Linked DNA regions of Homo sapiens: regions 2 and 3 are each linked to region 1. Evidence: fine-mapped expression QTL. A gene starts in region 1. Each other region holds a variant in brackets. All regions are shown on one strand. Distances are between the middles of the regions. Region 1 holds the start of PPP2R5C (protein phosphatase 2 regulatory subunit B'gamma). Region 2 overlaps PPP2R5C (protein phosphatase 2 regulatory subunit B'gamma). Region 3 overlaps LINC02320 (long intergenic non-protein coding RNA 2320).

What was found. PIP is the estimated chance that this variant, and not a neighbour inherited with it, causes the effect.
Region 2: its variant is the best candidate, but not a certain one, in a credible set for the expression of PPP2R5C in whole blood (TOPMed, PIP 0.82).
Region 3: its variant is the best candidate, but not a certain one, in a credible set for the expression of PPP2R5C in thyroid (GTEx, PIP 0.56).

What each region holds. Positions count from the first base shown.
Region 1 is chr14:101,758,392-101,764,066 of GRCh38, forward strand. PPP2R5C (protein phosphatase 2 regulatory subunit B'gamma) reads left to right here and starts at 3,318. Exons shown (of 16, transcript NM_001352913.2): 1 at 3,318-3,529; 2 at 4,514-4,579. The coding sequence starts at 3,503. RefSeq lists silencers at 2,164-2,273, 2,344-2,493, 2,554-2,603, 3,064-3,223, 3,234-3,473 and 2 more.
Region 2 is chr14:101,906,332-101,911,691 of GRCh38, forward strand. PPP2R5C (protein phosphatase 2 regulatory subunit B'gamma) reads left to right here. Exons shown (of 16, transcript NM_001352913.2): 12 at 71-198; 13 at 3,258-3,359. Among named protein-coding and RNA genes, the nearest start is that of DYNC1H1, 56 kb to the right of the region's middle. The variant T/C (reference allele first, on the strand shown) is at 2,990.
Region 3 is chr14:101,713,701-101,719,375 of GRCh38, forward strand. All of the region lies in intron 1 of LINC02320 (long intergenic non-protein coding RNA 2320), which reads right to left. Among named protein-coding and RNA genes, the nearest start is that of LINC00239, 14 kb to the right of the region's middle. RefSeq lists a silencer at 4,744-4,949. The variant T/C (reference allele first, on the strand shown) is at 3,322.

The DNA of each region.
Region 1 (5,675 bases):
GTGATGCGAGCAGTGCCTTCATGAACATGGAATGTGGGGCCATCCTGGAAGAGGTAACCCTCAGCCACACACACACACACACACCCACATAATGGCTTTATATCCTATCTCAATAGCTTGTCCTGAATCCCTTCTTTTGGGAGCAGGAGCTATATCTATCTTTAGCGTTCCTGTAAATACCACAGCACCTAAGACACTGCATGAAACCCAGTGTGTTCTACGGGTAGTCGGTAACTAACTGTCCTTAAAGATGGTCCTCCCTAATGTGGGCAAATGAAGCCAGTCCAATGGCCAGTGACGTACACATGCAGTTGTACAGGTAATGGTGTTGAGTCAGATTTCTCTGGTTGCTATGGTTTCAAGGTCACTGGATGTTAATCAGGCAGCTTTGCTTGTACCCTGTCCCTATGCTTTCCCTAAAACTCTAAACTGACCTGAGAAACCTCTAACCTGACATGCAACTAGTCCTCTATGCTATATTTCCAGTTGCCATCTTGGACACCTCTACCTACATTTTGCGGACACAGCAACGTGTCCCAAACTGGAATCTTGTTCCCTTGCAAACCTGCCCTCCACTTGCATCCCTTCCTCATCATTCACTGTGTTGCCCAAACTACAAGCATGAGCATTCGCTTTTTATCCTCGATTCTGGCTCTCTGTCGCGTCGGCGATCCTTCCCCCCGTTGCTGTGGAGATGCCTCCCTGGCACGCACCTGAACCATAGCTGGATGCTGATTGCTCTTTCTGCCTCCTGCTTTTACTTCCACCCTCACCTCCTCCACACTCCTGCCACCGATGTCTTCTAAAATGCAAATGTGAGTACATCACTCCCCACTTCAGTATCTGTCAGTGACCCTGAAATGCATTCAAAAAGAAGTACAATATCTTGGCAAGGTCTACCAGTCTTAATTCAGCGTCGCTGTTCCTTCAGTCTCATCTCCGGCCATAACAAAACGTCCTGTGCAGTGCTCTGTCATGCTTCCAAGCCTGACCCCCCTCACCCCAGTCCTGTAGACTTGTCACATGTCATGTCCTTCTGATTGCTGGTTTTTTCTATTTCCATGCAAGCATGTGAACTGCTTGAGGACAAGGGTAGTGCCTTGTTCACCATGAAATTTCTGGCATCATGCTTTGCACATAGTAGTTATCCAACAAATGTGGGTCGAATGAATGAATTGTATGCAACACCGGATCAGGAGATATGATACAAGGATTTGGGTGGCAAAGGATTGTCTCAGAGATGCCTCTAAGCCTCCCTAAGAGTTCATGGCCATAAACCAATAGTTTCAGAGCTACTCCTTTTTGATATGGATATATCCTGGACTTATTAAATTGACAGCACATATTTTATTTTTAAAATGTTATTAAGTTAACTAGGGGCATCGCTCTATCCTCAAAATTGTTTTGGAGACACCATTAACCCACTTAAATTATTAATAAAAAAGCCACTTATTCCGCACAAATAGTTGAGACTGTCCTGCTTACCTACAGATATTCGTCTAAGAGCCGGCAGACATTCAGATACCCGCAGACAGAACTTACTTTCTGGACCTCCCACAACATTCCTCCCTTTAGATCTTTTTTTTCTTACCCCGTCTTTCAGCTTTCTCATTGCAGAACTGCTGAGAATAATGGAAAATGCTTTGCCTGGAAACTTCCAAGAACAAAACTCCGGGGGCTAAGAGAACGCGATGATTTTTAAGCTGCCAGTTAAGATGCAGCTCCTTCATCATCACAGGTGAAGCACCAATGCCTCTCGCACGTGAAATCCGTACGCTCCTAGAGTCTTACTACCTAATGCATTTCTGCAATCTGGGACGCCTGTCCTTAGCGTCTTCAATAGTTTTGGGCACGAGGTGGACCGCGGAAGTATTGTATTGAAAAGTTAACGTTTTTCCCTTGGACACCCTCTCCTCACAGCTATTAACAAGCTGAGAGAAATCAGGTGACTCCCAGTCATGCAGAGGTTTCCTCACCATTTATGATCAAGCCAAATTAAAGAATAAAAATAAAATCCTATTGGCGCAGCGGCCACCAAGTCTTTGAGGCCTCGCCTCGGTGGGCGGGGCCGACGCCGGAGGAGAGGGGCTGCGCATGTGGGCGTGACCTCGCGGAAGGAGCTGCGGAGGGCGGGGCCGACTGGAGAGGGGCGGGGCTGTCGGGTGGGTGGGACCTCGCGGCAAAAGCTGCGGAGGGCGGGACCAACCAGGAAAGGACGGGACTGTCGGGTAGGCGGGACCTTGCGGGAGAAACTGCGGAGGGCGGGACCAACCAGGGAGGGGCGGGCTGTCGGATGGGCGGGACCTCGCGGGAGGAGCTGCGGAAAGCTGAGCTGGTGAGGGGAGGGGCTGGTCGAGGGGAGGGGCTGGTCGAGGGGAGGGGCTGGCCGAGGGAAGGGGCCGGCCGAGGGGAGGGGCCGGTCGAGGGGAGGGGCCGGTCAAGGGGAGGGCCCGGCCAAGGGGAGGGGCCGGTCGAGGGGAGGGGCCGGTCGAGGAGAGGGGTTGGTCGAGGGGAAGGGCTGGCCGAGGGGAGGGGCTGGCCGAGGGAAGAGGAGGGGAGGGGACGGGCTGGTCGAGGGGAGGGGAGGGGAGGGCAGGGGACGGGCTGGTCGAGAGAAGGGGAGGGCAGGGGACGGGGTGGTCGAGGGGAGGGGACGGAGGGGAGGGGAGTGGAGGGAGAGGAGGGAAGGGGAGGGGAGGGAAGGGAGGGGAGGCGGGGCCCAGCGGTGTCCCGCGAAACTGCCGCTCGCTCGGTTCCCGGGCCTCCCCGTGCGCCTCAGTGCAAAGCGTGCCAGGCACTCTTGACTGCAACGAGAGCCGCGGCGGTGAGGGGGCAAGGCCAAGAGGCCACGGTTCGCGTTTCGCCGGCTGCAGAAGTTGTTGCCATACATTTCAAATGTGCATTTCCTACGTCTCACGCTCTGTCTTGCGCCTCCACAGCGGGCCACGGCCCTGTCACCGCAGTCGCAGCCACATGCTCCCTCCCCTGAGTCGGCTCAGCTCTGCTCAGCGGTCAGCCCCGCGCCAGGAGGCCGCGGCCTGCCTGAGGCCGGCTCGCAGCGACTCGGGACGGAGGGCGGGGGCGTGAACGGGTCGCGCGGAGAGGGTGGGGGGAGCGGGGAGCGTTAGGGTACGTGGGGGCGCGTCGACCAATGGCAGGGCGCTGTTGAGTGCAGCGGGGCGGGGCCGGGCGCGGGGGTGGGGCGAGCGGCGGGCGGGGCGGGGCGGCCGGCCGGGGGGTGGGAGGAGAGGGGCGGGGCGGGCCGGCCGGGGGAGGGGCGGAGAGACGCCGCCGCTGCCGCCGCCGCCGCCGCCGCCGCCGCCGTGGCTGCCGCAGCCTCTGGGAGTCTGGAAAAGGGGAAGCGAGAGCAAGCGAAAGACTCAGTCCCCGGGCGGCGGCGGCGGCGGCGGCCGCGGGGGCGCGACGGCCGGGGCGGGGGCGCTGCTGCTGCGGGGGCAGGCGGCGGCAGGGGCGGCGGCGGCGGCGGCGGCCCGCTCCAGCCATGCCGAATAAAAACAAGAAGGAGAAAGTGAGTCCGGGCCCGGCCGCGGGACGGAGGGAGCAGGGAGGGACTGCCGGGGGAGGGCGCGACGGCACCGGGGTCCTGCGCCCGGGCCCCGGCTCAGTTCCCCGCCTGACGCCGCGGGCTTCGCGTCCCCGAGGGCGGCCGAGCCAGGCATCCCCGGGCTTCTCTCGGCCTCATGCCCGGTGGGGGCGGGGAGCCCGGGGATCGCGCCGGAGCCGCGGGGCGCAGGCCCGGGCCGCTGGGACCTTCGTGATGGGCCGGGGCTGGGCGTGGAGGGAGGGCGCGGCCCGGGGAGGGGGTCGGAGGGGCGCCCGTTTCCGACAGCGCGCCGTGGGCTTGGGCGGGCAGGTGCGGCCGCCGAGGGGGTTCGCAGCCTCGCAGGCTCCCGGAAAGGAGCTTCAGGGATGGGGGCTGTAGACGCCTGGGGAGGGACCCCTGTACGGGGGAAAGGGAGCGAGAAGGGACCCCGCTGAGAGCTGGTAAGGAATTCTCTGCCGCCCCGGAGGGACGCTCTGGGGCTCTCGAACACTATTATTATCCTGGGTGGCGGCGGCGGTGAGGGCTGCGAGCAAGGGTGCTGCGTTTGCATTCGGGGGGGCGGGTATGTTTCTGCTTCAGGTGGAGCTCTGTAGCGTTTCATTATCACCCCAGAAATCCTCACTCATAGGGTTTAGGGTGGGAGGGTAGAAAGGGATGTGATGTGGATCTCAAAATGCCAGAAGCACTGTATAAAATTGGATTTATCTGTTTTCTGCTTGAAGTTTTCAACCTCAAATGCAGATAAAACGAAAAGAATCTGAATGGGGGTTGGGGGGCATTGCACTGTTGGAATCCTAAACGGTATGATATAGAATTTCCTAATGGTATGAATTAAAAATATCAGAAGCTGTAGTTGTATAAATCACTTTTAAAACTGCATTTGGCTTATCTGATGTTTACCTGTCTAAAAAGTGAGAAGACTAATTGACTTTGCTTGATGTTTACCAGGAATCACCAAAAGCAGGGAAGAGTGGAAAAAGTTCAAAAGAAGGACAAGACACAGTAGAATCAGAGGTAACTGTCATCAAATATTGACTTTGTATTTTATACACAGCTTTTAACTTCAGGTAGAAAAACCGAGAGTGATAAAGCCTAGAATCTTCTAAAATGTTTCCCTATGTGAGGTTTTTTTTTTGTGGTGTCTTTTATAACCCTCAATTTTAGTTGTTTAGGTATTTACTGTTTTGCTTTGGAAAACTATTAATGATTTTATGAAAATTGTGCTTGCCTATGGGGTTTGTTTGTGGGTCTTTTGGGGTTTTTTTTGTTTTTTATTTTTTTGAGACGGGGTCTCACTTTGTCACGCAGGCTGGAGTGCAGTGGCGCAATCTCTGCTCACTGCTACCCCTTGCCGCCCAGGCTCAAGTGATCCTCTTACCTCAGCCTCCCAAGTAGCTGGGACCACAGGAACATGCCACCACACCCAACAAATTTTTTTTTTTTTTTAATAGAGTCTCACTCTGTCACCCAGGCTGGAGTGCAGTGGCGCGATCTTGGCTCACTGCAACCTCTGCCTCCCGAGTTCAAGCAATTCTCCTGCCTCAGCCTCCTGAGTAGCTGGGATTACAGGCACCCGCTACCACGCCCGGCTAATTTTTGTATTTTTATTAGAGACGGGGTTTCACCAGGTTGGTCAGGCCGGTCTTGAACTCCTGTCCTCGTGACCCGCCCACCTTGGCCTCCTAAGGTGCTGGGATTACAGGCCTGAGCCACCGTGCCCATCCTGGATCTGGTATTTTTAAGTTCATTTCCCACACCTCAAACCCAGCAACCCTCCTGTATAGATTGGTCTTATGCAGTCTATGGTGTTGCTATGTTGCTTTTAGCTTTAGGGTCATCTCCCCACCGCCACTTCCATTGCAAGCTGCCAGGCAACTCAGTGGTTAGTTCTTTTTCTTCCATCACCTTGTTTTCCTTCAAACCACCTCTGCTACTGACGTCCTGGGCTAGCTCCCTATTTCTGTTGACGGTCCCTTGGCCTCTTTCTCCAATAATGTTGGTATTTGAAAAAATTTACCTAGTTTTGGTATTTTATTATTGTTCACATTGTGTGTGTGTGTGTGTGTGTGTGTGGGCGCGCGCACTTGCGCGTCGGCCACTTGTAAATTTC
Region 2 (5,360 bases), 150 kb after region 1:
TTAACAGCAAGGACAGCCACCTGATGTCTCAGGCACAACCTCCAGCAAGCCATCCACTTGTGTCTTTCAGGTGGCAGAGCGAGCTCTCTATTACTGGAATAATGAATACATCATGAGTTTAATCAGTGACAACGCAGCGAAGATTCTGCCCATCATGTTTCCTTCCTTGTACCGCAACTCAAAGACCCATTGGAACAAGTAAGAAAGAACTGGCTGCCATCTTTTTCAGTCATTTTAAAATATGGCACGTTTTACTGCTACTTCAGTAAGAATAAATATCAGAATTTTAAATATCAATTAAAAAACAAGAAGGTCAGTTGCTTTGTGGACTCATAAATTAAGTAGCAGCGTGGGTTGTTTCTGTGGCCGTTGAATTTACCACCTTATACCTTCATTCCTGCCAGTATAGAGGCACATTGGTTTGCAGCCACCTCCCAGTAGCAGCAGTTTCTAGGCCTCTTCCTGAGCGTCCTGCAGAGAAGCTGAAGGTCTCTGCAGAGCCCAGTGGGGCTCAGCCCCGGCGGGGGCACAGTGGCCACTGCATTCTCGGGGTGTCTATTGAGCTCTGCTGACATGCACCCTGGATGAGCCCCTGTGTGAGACCCAAGAACCACCCCACAGTGGTCACTACCTGGAGAAGAAGAGGGAAGCCAGGTGATCTGAACACAGCCCCATAGTCCCAGCAGCCAAAAACATTTCCTCCTACTCCGCTCCTTCATCTTTTGACTTAAAGAGGATGAATAAATCCGTTTACTGAGCAATAGTCTTCTGAGACTTTAAAAGGAAACTGTTGATATGGGTGCCACATTATTTATTTATTTTTCTTTTTTAAAATTTGTATTTTATTTGTTTATTTTTAGACAGGGTCTTGCTATGTCCCCCCGGCTGGAGTGTAGTGTCACGATCATGGCTCACTTCAGCCTCGACCTCCTGGGCTCAAGCAAACCTCCTGCCTCAGGGTCCTGAGTAGCTGGGACTACAGGCACCCACCGCTACGCCTGGCTAATTTTTGTATTTTTTGTAGAGATGGGGTTTTGCCATGTTGCCCAGGCTGGTCTCGAACTCCTGGACTCAAGTATTCCACCTGCCTCAGCCTCCCAAAGTGCTGGGACGACGTGAGCCACTGCGCCCAGGCCATATTATTTATTAATATGGTATCATCTAATATTCCTGCTATTTAAAGAAATACGACTGAGTTTTTCTTTCCCCACCTTCTTTCATCTCTTTCCATTGTATATTGTAATTATAACTCAGAACTTAAAGAAGAGCAGGTTATGCTATCCAGCCCTCCTCCCTTAGTTTATGGGTGAGGAAGGTGAGACTTGGAGGGCATTCGCAGCCCAGTCTGCGGTCCCAAAGCTGGTGAGCGGCACTCTGGCCCGGTGCGGTCTCCTAACTCGCAGTGTCTATTGGGCACCCCTCTGGCTGTGCTGCACAGTCACCCTGCTGCCGGCGGACCAGCCCTCTCCCATGCACCCTCTCTCCTTGTCCGCTCGAGGCTGCAGGTGGCACTGCCTCCTTCCCAGAATTCTGCAGGGCAGCAGCCAGACAGGTGTTAGCCCTGGAGCTCTGAGCCAGACCCCCGAGCGAGCGTCCAGCCAGTCCACTCGCGTCAAGTCTTCTGAGGGTTGCCGCCCAGAAATTCAACAGAGAAGGGCAGGCAGATCAGAGTGAGGATGACTTTGGTTCACATTCCTGCCTTCCTCCTGAGCAGCTGTCTGAACCCGGGGAAGTTAGCTCTCACCAGGTCTTTCTTAGCCACAGTTTCTCTTTGGAAAAACTGAGAAAGTAAAGTGCTTTGCCTTGCAACAATCTTCACTTGGTTGTGAGGATTAAGATAAAGTTAATATGCGTAAAGTACCTGGCTTATGATAGGCACCAAGTAAGCATTTGCTGTCACTTAGTGGTTGTAGGGCCAGCAGCCATGCTGATAGCAGTGGAGGCAGCAGCCAAGACCCTCATGGCAATAGCGTGGTGGTTGTAGTTGTTAATACAGCACATCCACCCTCAACAACCTGTTCTTTGTAGCATTGATTTATTTTATTTATTTATTTATTTTTGAGATGGAGTCTTGCTCTGTCACCCAGACTGGAGTGCAGTGGCACCATCCTGGCTCACTGCAGCCTCCACCTCCCAGGTTCAAGTGATTCTCCCACCTCAGCCTCCCAAGTAGCTGGGACTACAGACATGAGCCACCACTCCTGGCTAATTTTTGCATTTGTAGTAGAGATGGGGTTTCACCATGTTGGCCAGGCTGGTCTTGAACTCCTGACCTGAAGTGACCCACCCGCCTCAGCCTCCCACGGTGCCGGGACTACAGGTGTGAGCCACCGCGCCTGGCTTGCATTGATTTTTTTTTTTTTAATCGCAACAATGACAACAAAGCCCCTGGAGTGTCGCCATGTTTCTTGTGTGTAATTTAGTTTAGTATGTAAGTCAGCACAATTCATAACTGACTTCCAATCCCCGCCCATTGCAAAGAAAAAAATGTTCTTTTAAGTGTTTTCTAAGTACAACTTGGGTTTTATTACAAAGTGGATTAAGAAGGAATTATGATTTGAGGGTTACGTTTTTTGGGATTTATTTGTTTTTAGCTACTGGCACCTGTTGCTCACAGTCCTGCGGGTCGAGCAGGTCCTGCTGCGCAGGCTTTCGCTGGTGTCTGCTGGGGGATCGGGGCTCTTACAGGGCTGCAGTCCCATGGCAGCTGGGACTAGAGTCACCCAGAGGCTCAGCTGGAACAATTTGGCCTCTTTCCCTCTCCATGCGTGTCAGAGCCTGAGAGCTAAGCATTGATTAAGCTGTTTTATGCTCATTTTATTTTCTCTTTCAAAGCTCTGTGTTGCCATTATTAAAATTAATTTTTCTGTCCTCAGGGAATAAGATGAAAAGAAACTGACATTTATAGGAAATCAAGTATTGCCATTATTGTCCTCTTTATAATTTTGTCTTAACTATATTTGTTCAAGTTTCAATGTTTTTAATTCAG[T/C]TTCTGAGCAAGGTCGTTTTTGGCTACTGTCAGCTGGAGACAGTGAGTGGAGTGGCCTCTGTGGCTATGTGAGAGCCACTGTGAAGAAAGTCTCGGGATGTGTGGCTGTCAGAAAACAAGTAACGCGGAATGAGCAGGCCTTGCATTTTAGACCTTAGGGATCCTGTGCGATGTGGGACTGTTGGAATATGGAGCAGCCTGAGAGTGGAGAGGCGAGGGCTCAGCAGGAATGCGTGCTCCCAGGCTCACCGTGCGGTTTTCTTTATAGGACAATACATGGCTTGATATACAACGCCCTGAAGCTCTTCATGGAGATGAACCAAAAGCTATTTGATGACTGTACACAACAGTTCAAAGCAGAGAAACTAAAGTGAGTTGTTCCTTTCACAAGTTACTGTTTCCAGGATTTTTTTCTTAATCCTAAGTAAACCTCTTCCACTGTTTTGTCCTAAAACGGTATTCTTCACTCGAAAGCAAAACCAAGCCTTTCATACTTGGAAAGCAAATTAAAACTGTGTTATAATAACGTATTTTGAAAGAACAGGTGTTTAAAGGTAGCTATTCTCCCCCCTTGTATTGCCAGATTAATCATCTTTGCAAAAAGTGCTTATGTAAGCAAGAATTTAACATTCAGAATTTTTTCTTTTCTTGGGCTATAATGGGCTTAAAGGCTATAATGTGTAGTCCATTTTCATGTTTATAAGGCAGGGATTTGAATTATATCCTATAAGGTTTATCCCAGAGAGCAAGAATCTTCATTTCAATGTAGCTTTATTCTGATTTAATGAACTCAGCGATGTGGGTGTTCTCTGGAATCTAGTCTGTCCTTTGCAAAATCAGGGTCCTGCCCTCGTGCCTTTGAGCCCACATGTGTCCAGGGATGATCTAAGTGACAAAGTACTTCGTCCCTAGGCTGTGCAAGTAATAATGTGATTAAATAGTTGTTGGAGGTCACTTCTTCCAAGTTGAGTATGGACTATTGGCAGATTTTATTTTTTGCTTGTCACTTAAAACTGGCTAAGGTAGATAAGCTTTGCACGAATGTAATTCAAAATACACTGTATACATATGTGTGTATCTATGTGTGTGTGTGTGTGTGTATATATATGAAACAACTGCCATTTAGTCATTCCTTAGACAAATATGTGAATATTTACCTTATACACCAGGCCCTGTTTTAGATTCTGGCAATATAGCAATGAATAAAACCCACAAAAATCCTTGCCCCTGGGCCGGGTGCGGTGGCTCACGCCTGTAATCCCAGCACTTTGGGAGGCCAAGGCGGGTGGATCACAAGGTCAGGAGATTGAGACCATGCTGGCTAACACGGTGAAACCCCATCTCTACTAAAAAATACCAAAAAAGGGCCAGGCGTGGTGGCTCATGCCTGTAATCCCAGCGCTTTGGGAGGCCGATGCAGGCAGATCACGAGGTCAGGAGATCGAGACCATCCTGGCTAACACAATGAAACCCCGTCTCTACTAAAAATACAAAAAAAAAGGCCGGGCATGGTGGCTCATGCCTGTAATCCCAGCACTTTGGGAGGCCAAAGCAGGCAGATCACCTGAGGTCAGGAGTTCGAGACAAGCCTGGCGAACACAGTGAAACCCCGTCTCTACTGAAAATACAAAAAATTAGCCGGGCGTGGTGGCAGGCGCCTGTGGTCCCAGCTACTCAGAGTCTGAGGCAGGAGAATGGTGTGAACCTGGGAGGCGGAGCTTGCAGTGAGCTGAGCTCACACCACTGCACTCCAGCCTGGGAGACAGAGAGAGACTCCGTCTCAAAAAAAAAAAAAATACAAAAAAAAATCAGCCGGGTGTGGTGGCGGGTGCCTGTAGTCCCAGCTACTCGGGCTGAGGCAGGAGGATGGCGTGAACCTGGAGGCGGAGCTTGCAGTGAGCCAAGATCACGCCACTGCACTCCAGCCTGGGCGACAGAGCGAGACTCCGTCTCAAAAAAAAAATCCTTGCCCTTTTGGGGTTTATATTCTGGGTAGTGTGGGGAAATAAAAGAACACAAAATACACCTAAGTGAACTATAGAGCATGAGAGATGACAAGTCAGTCAGGAAAGGGCCGGGGAGACAGACCAGCCATTCCTCTAGAGCTGCCAGCTGCATGGTCTGTTCTCATCTCAGCTCTCAGTGCAGTTCGCAGGTAGGAAGCATGCAAGCAGCAGGGCCTTCTGATGGCAGATCCTCCTCTCGTGGAATCCCACAGCTTTCCCAACAGGACCTTAAAGGTTGTGTAGTACATTTTCTGGGTTGAAAAACTTGGATCCTGGCCGGGCGCAGTGGCTCACACCTGTAATCCCAGCACTTTGGGAGGTTATGGCTGGTGGATCATTTGAGGTCAGGAGTTCGAGACCAGCCT
Region 3 (5,675 bases), 45 kb before region 1:
CCCCACCCACCGTCATCTCTCCCCACCCACTGTCATCTCACCCCACCCACTGAGATCTCACCCAAGTATAATCTTGCAGCACCGCTTTTCTTTCTAATGTCTTGACAAGCAGGTGAGAAGATGCTGAGTGTTCTTGGTCCATTGCTGTGGCTACAAAGGCTGGTTCTAGTGTCTCACTGGCTGTCTCCTGCTCAAGCATGGTTTTAGCAGTTCCCTTCTTATCCCGGGCCATACTAGACCTACTGTCTTCCCTGGCTTGCACTATGCTATGGTTTGAATGTTTGTCTCCTTCCTCATGTTGAAATTTAACCCCCAATGTGGCAGTATTGGGAGGTGGGGCCTTTAAGAGGTGATTATGTCATATGTCCCCTTCCCTCATGAGTAGATTACTCCATTCAGCGAGTAATGGGCTAATGGATGTTCTTGGGAGTAGGACTTGTGGCTCTATAACAAGGAGAGAGAACTGAGCTTGCACACTCAGCCCCTCATCTTGTGATGCCCTGGGCTGCCTTGGGACTTTGCAGAAAGTCCCTGCTAGCATGAAGGCCCTCACCAGATGCAGCCTCTCAACCTTGGACTTCCCAGCCTTCAGGACTGTAAGAAATAAATCTTGTTTCTTTATTAATTACCCAGTTTCAGGTATTCTGTTATAAGCCACAGTAAATGGACTAAGACAGGCTGTGGTAACAAACTACCATTAAATGGGTGGCTTAAATAACAGATTTATTTCTTAGAGTTCTAGGGTCTGGGGAGTCCAAGATCAAGGTGCTGGTAGATCCCCTGTCTGATACGAGCTCACTTCCAGGTTTGTAGATAGCCACCTTCTCATTGTGTCCTACATGGCAGACAGCAGACAGAGGAGGAGCAAACTCCACTGTCTCTTCGTATAAGGGCACTAATCCCATTCATGAGGGCCACACCCTCATGACCTAATTACATCCCAAAGGCCCACCTCTGAATATCCTTGTGTTGAAGGTTAGGAATTCAACACATGAATTTGGGGGAGACAAACGTTTAGTCCATAACACCTATAACAACCAAGACACAGCTACCAGCCACATGTGGCTACTGAGCCAGTATGAATTGGGATGGGCTATAAAATGCAAAATATACACTGAAATGTAATGATTCTGTATAAAGGCTGGGTACAGTGGCTTAGGCCTATAATCCCAACAATTTGGGAGGCTGAGGTGGGAAGATCCCTTGAGACCAGCCTGGGCAACATAGGAAGACCCCATTTCTAGAAAAAAATTTCCCAGTCTGGGCAACATAGAGAGAACTTGTCTCTGTAGAAATTTTTAAAAATTAGCCAGGCATGGTGCAGGCACCTGTAGTCCCATCTACCCAGGAGGCTGAGGTGGAAGGATACCCTGAGCCTGGGAGGTCGAGGCTTCAGTAAGCTATGATCATGCCACTGCACTCCAGCCTGGGTTACAGAGTGAGCCTCTTCTCAATTTAAAAAAAAAAAAAAAAAAAAAAGATTTAGTAGGAAAAAAGGATGAAGGCAAAATATCTCATTAATAAGTTTTATTTTGATGGCATGTTGCGATGATAATATTTTGAGCATATCTTGGACTACATTAAATATATTACTAAAATCAATGTCATCTTTTTCTTTTTACTTTTGAAATGTGGGCACTAAGAATTTTTTAACACCTACGTGGTTCGCACTTGTGGCTCACATGACATCCCTATTGGGCAGAGCTAGTCCAGAGGATTCTGAGCCTTTGGCGCCAGTGCTTGGATCATCTGAGTTGTAGGCGCCCTCCCCTCATGCGTGCACAAGCAGTGAAGATCTTGATCTCACTCTTGGGTCGATGAGTTAAATGTGTGTGATACTACAGAGGGAGGCAGGCAGCCCAGGTGTTGCAGGGCTGTGAGTGGAAGCTTCGGGGGCATCTGCTTCTCTGTCTTGCAGGTCTTCAAGTGATTGTCCGGGAAAGTCTGGGGAGAGGTGGGGATACTGCAGTTGCAAACCCCAGTGCTGGAGGTGGGGCCTGGTGGGAGGTGACTGGATCTTGGGGCGGTTTCTCATGGTTTAACACCACCCACCTTGGTGCTCCTGCTTGGCCTCAGCCATAAGTCAAAGATCCCCAAGGCCTCCCCAGAGGCAGATGCTGCCATGCTTCCTGTATAGCCTGTGGAACCACGAGCCAATGACACCTGCTTCCTTTATAAATTACCCAGTCTCAGGTATTTCTTTATAGCAGTGCAAGAACGGACTACAGCACTCCAGTGCCGGCCTCTCTCCAAGGGCAGCTCCACTTCCAGCCTCCACTCTTGGGTCATCTGGGACCTGTGGACATTCACCCCAAGCGAAGCCAAGAGTCCCCTTTGGGATGAATAAATCCAATGGCTGACCAGGTGGTGACCTCCAGGCCTGGCAAAGCTGCCTCCCACGAAGCCCTATCTCCATATTGAGGATTGCAATTCCACATGAGATTTGGGCGGAGACAAAGATCCAAACCATATCATGGGTCAGAAACCTGAGTATGGAACAGGACGTGGCCAGTGAGGGCCGGTGGGGGGCAGCATGGAGAGTCACACTGGTGAGAACTCATCAAGGTCTGTCCACTGGGTCTGAGCAACACCCCCTGACCTGCCTGCCCCACCCCAAGCCAAGACGCCAACTGGAGGCTGCATCCCCTCCACTGCTGGCTGCAGTGTTGAAGATTGGGAGGCTCTCCCTCTTCCGCAGGCATAGAATTTCAAATTGACACAGACTGCAGTGGAACCGCTGACCCAGCACTAACCTCACCCATCCCAGCCCCTCGGCAGGCCTGCCAGCGGGTAGCTTCCTGCCCCAGTCACCCCTGCAGGACACCAGCTCTCCATTCCTCTGGCACCCGTGTCAACCTCTCGTTCCCACAGTGGCTGCCTTGGCTCATGCCTTCACATGTTTCTCCCTTGCACTCTCCCAGGCCCCTGACCCATCTCTGCACCTCTCAGCTCTCCTGCCGCTGCACCTGCCCACATTCCCGAGTCAGAGCCCCCTGCTGCGCACCGCCACCTGGGCAGCCTCTCAACAGGAGAGTTTAACCGACACCCAGCTCTGGGTGCACTCCTCAGCAGAGCCACCCTTGGCTCCCAGAATGCCCACCCTGTGACCCCTCTTCGGCTGGACTGCAAGGAGTCTCTGTGCCAACAAGGAAAAGGCGCCCCTGCTGGCTGCAGGACATGGGCTGTGGAGGGAAGTGTCTGACCCAGACAGTGCCCAGTTGTAATTATCTCATAACCCGCAGTCTTTACTTGTCTGACTTCCTTTTTAGACCATGGGAACTGCCAGGGCAGATCCCTAGACGCTCAATAAATGCATCTTTA[T/C]TTAGAATGCACAGGTGCAGTTATCCAGCGGGCGCAGTGGAAGTGGGGATGCAGGAGGTGCCTGTGAATGGGCAGCCGGGGAGATTCTAATGTGGGCAGAGAGCGGAGAGGACCTGGGAAGGAAGGGAGGGGCCGCGGCACTGGGAGTCACAGGCCAGGCTGTCGCTTTGAGGGTCTGCACAGAGGGCAGGACCAGAGGAGACCACCCTGGGACTGCACAGAGCCGGCTTGAGGGTCCAGCCCCTTAAAGACAATCCTCTAGAGGCTGCAGAGTTTCCTCGAGCTGCCATAACAAAGCTCACAGGCTGTGTCCCCCAGCCACCCTTCACCCGCCGATTCCTGTGTTGAAGCCCTAACCCCCAGTACCTCAGAATGTGGCTGCATTTGGAGACTGGGCCTTTAAAAAGGTGATTGAGTTAAATTGAGGCCCTTAGGTTGGCCCTAATCCAACCCGGCTGACATCCTTTAAAAAAAAAAAAAAAAAGAGGTGATTCAGACACACAAAGAGCCACCAGGGATGTGTGAGTGCATAAAAATAGAGCATGTGAGGGTGCAGCGAGCAGGCGGCCGCCTGCAGACCAAGGAGAGAGGCCTCCAGAGAAATCAGCTCTGCCGGCATCTTTGTCTCAGACTTCTGACCTCCAGAACCGTGAGAGGACACATTTCTGTGGTTGAAGCCCTGCGTCTGTGAGATTTGTTACAGCAGCCCTTGCTGGCTAATATCATGGCTTGGACTAGACACGACCCCTTCACAGTTTTGGAGGTCAGAAGTCTGAGACCACGGTGCAGGCAGGGCTGTGCTCCCTCTGAGGGCGCTAGGAAGGGCCTGTTCCTGGCCTCCCTCAGAGCTTCTGCTGGTTCCTTGGCTTGGGGCAGCAGAACTCCAATCCACACGTGGCCCTCTCCCTGTGTGCGTGTCTGTGTCCAAATTTCCCCTTTTGGATAAAGACATCGGTCAGGTGGACTAGGACCCACCCTAATGACCACATCTTCACTTCAATACATCTGCAATGACCCTGTATCCAAATAAGTTCACATTCTGAGACGCTGGGAGTTACGACTCCAACACATGGATTTTGGCAGACACAATTCAACCTGTTACAGACTGGATTTCTCAGAGAAATTCCGGTGCTGAATCACTGGCCTCCAATGCGACCACATTCGAAGATAGGGCCATCAGGGAGGTAGCTAAGGTTATGAGGCCACGAGGGTGGGCCCTCAAGCCAATAGGGTTGGAGTCCTTATACCAAGAGGAAAGACACCAGAGACCACCCCCTCTCTAAGTGTGCACAGGGAAGAGGCCATGGGAGGATGCCGTGAGAAGGTGACACCCGCCGGCCAGGAAGAGAGGCCTTCCCAGAAACCAACCCCACGAGCGCCCTGATGTGGACTTCCAGCCTCCAAAACTGTGAGAAACAAGTTTCTGCTGTTTAAGCCACCCAGTCTGTGGCACTTCTTATGGCAGCCTAAGCAGAAGAAAATGCCACCCAGAGCCTTATCTATTAAATCGTTTGGTTGCAAATGACAGAAACTTAAATTAAACCACTTTAACCAGAGGAAAATTTCTAGCTGGGCATGGTGGCTCACACCTGTAATCCCAGCACTCTGGGAGGCCGAGGTGGGCAGATCCCTTGAGCTCAGGAGTTCGAGACCAGCTTTGGCAACATGGTGAAACCCCTGTCTGTACAAAAAATACCAAAAAATAGCTTGGTGTGCTGGCACATGCCTATAGTCTCAGCTACTCGGGAGGCTGAGGTAAGGGGATTGCTTGAGCCTTGGAGGTTGAGGCTGGAGCCAAGATTGTGGCAGAGTGAGACCTTGTGTCAATAAAAAGGAAAGGAAAGGAGAGGGGAGGAGAGGGGAGGAGAGGGGAGAGGAGGAGAGGGGAGGGGAGGGAAGGGGAAGGGAGGGGAGGAGGGGGAGGGCAGGGGAGCAGGGAAGGAGAAGGAAGGGGAAGGGAGGGGAGGAGAAGGGAGGGGAGGGGAGGGACCTAAGGAGGCATGTCACCTGAATGTCACGTGGAGTCCTGAGTAGAATCGTGGAACAGGAAGACGACATTAGGGAAAAACTAAGGGAATCTGAATAAAAGGTGGATTTAATATGTCAAAAATGGTGCTATAATGGTGACAAATGTACCATATGCTGTGAGGGGAGGGGAGGGGAGGGGAGGGGAGTAGGAAGGATTCTTAGCTCAAGAACTGAATAGGCCAAGCATAGATCTGGGCGCAGCAGTCTCCAGGGCTCTTCGGGCCCCACGTCTGTCTGTTTCTACGAATGCCTCTCCCAGCGGCCCTTTCCTCCCTGGGTTCTGTCCTGGAGTGACTCTCCAGCTGTGTGCCTGTCCGCTCAACAAC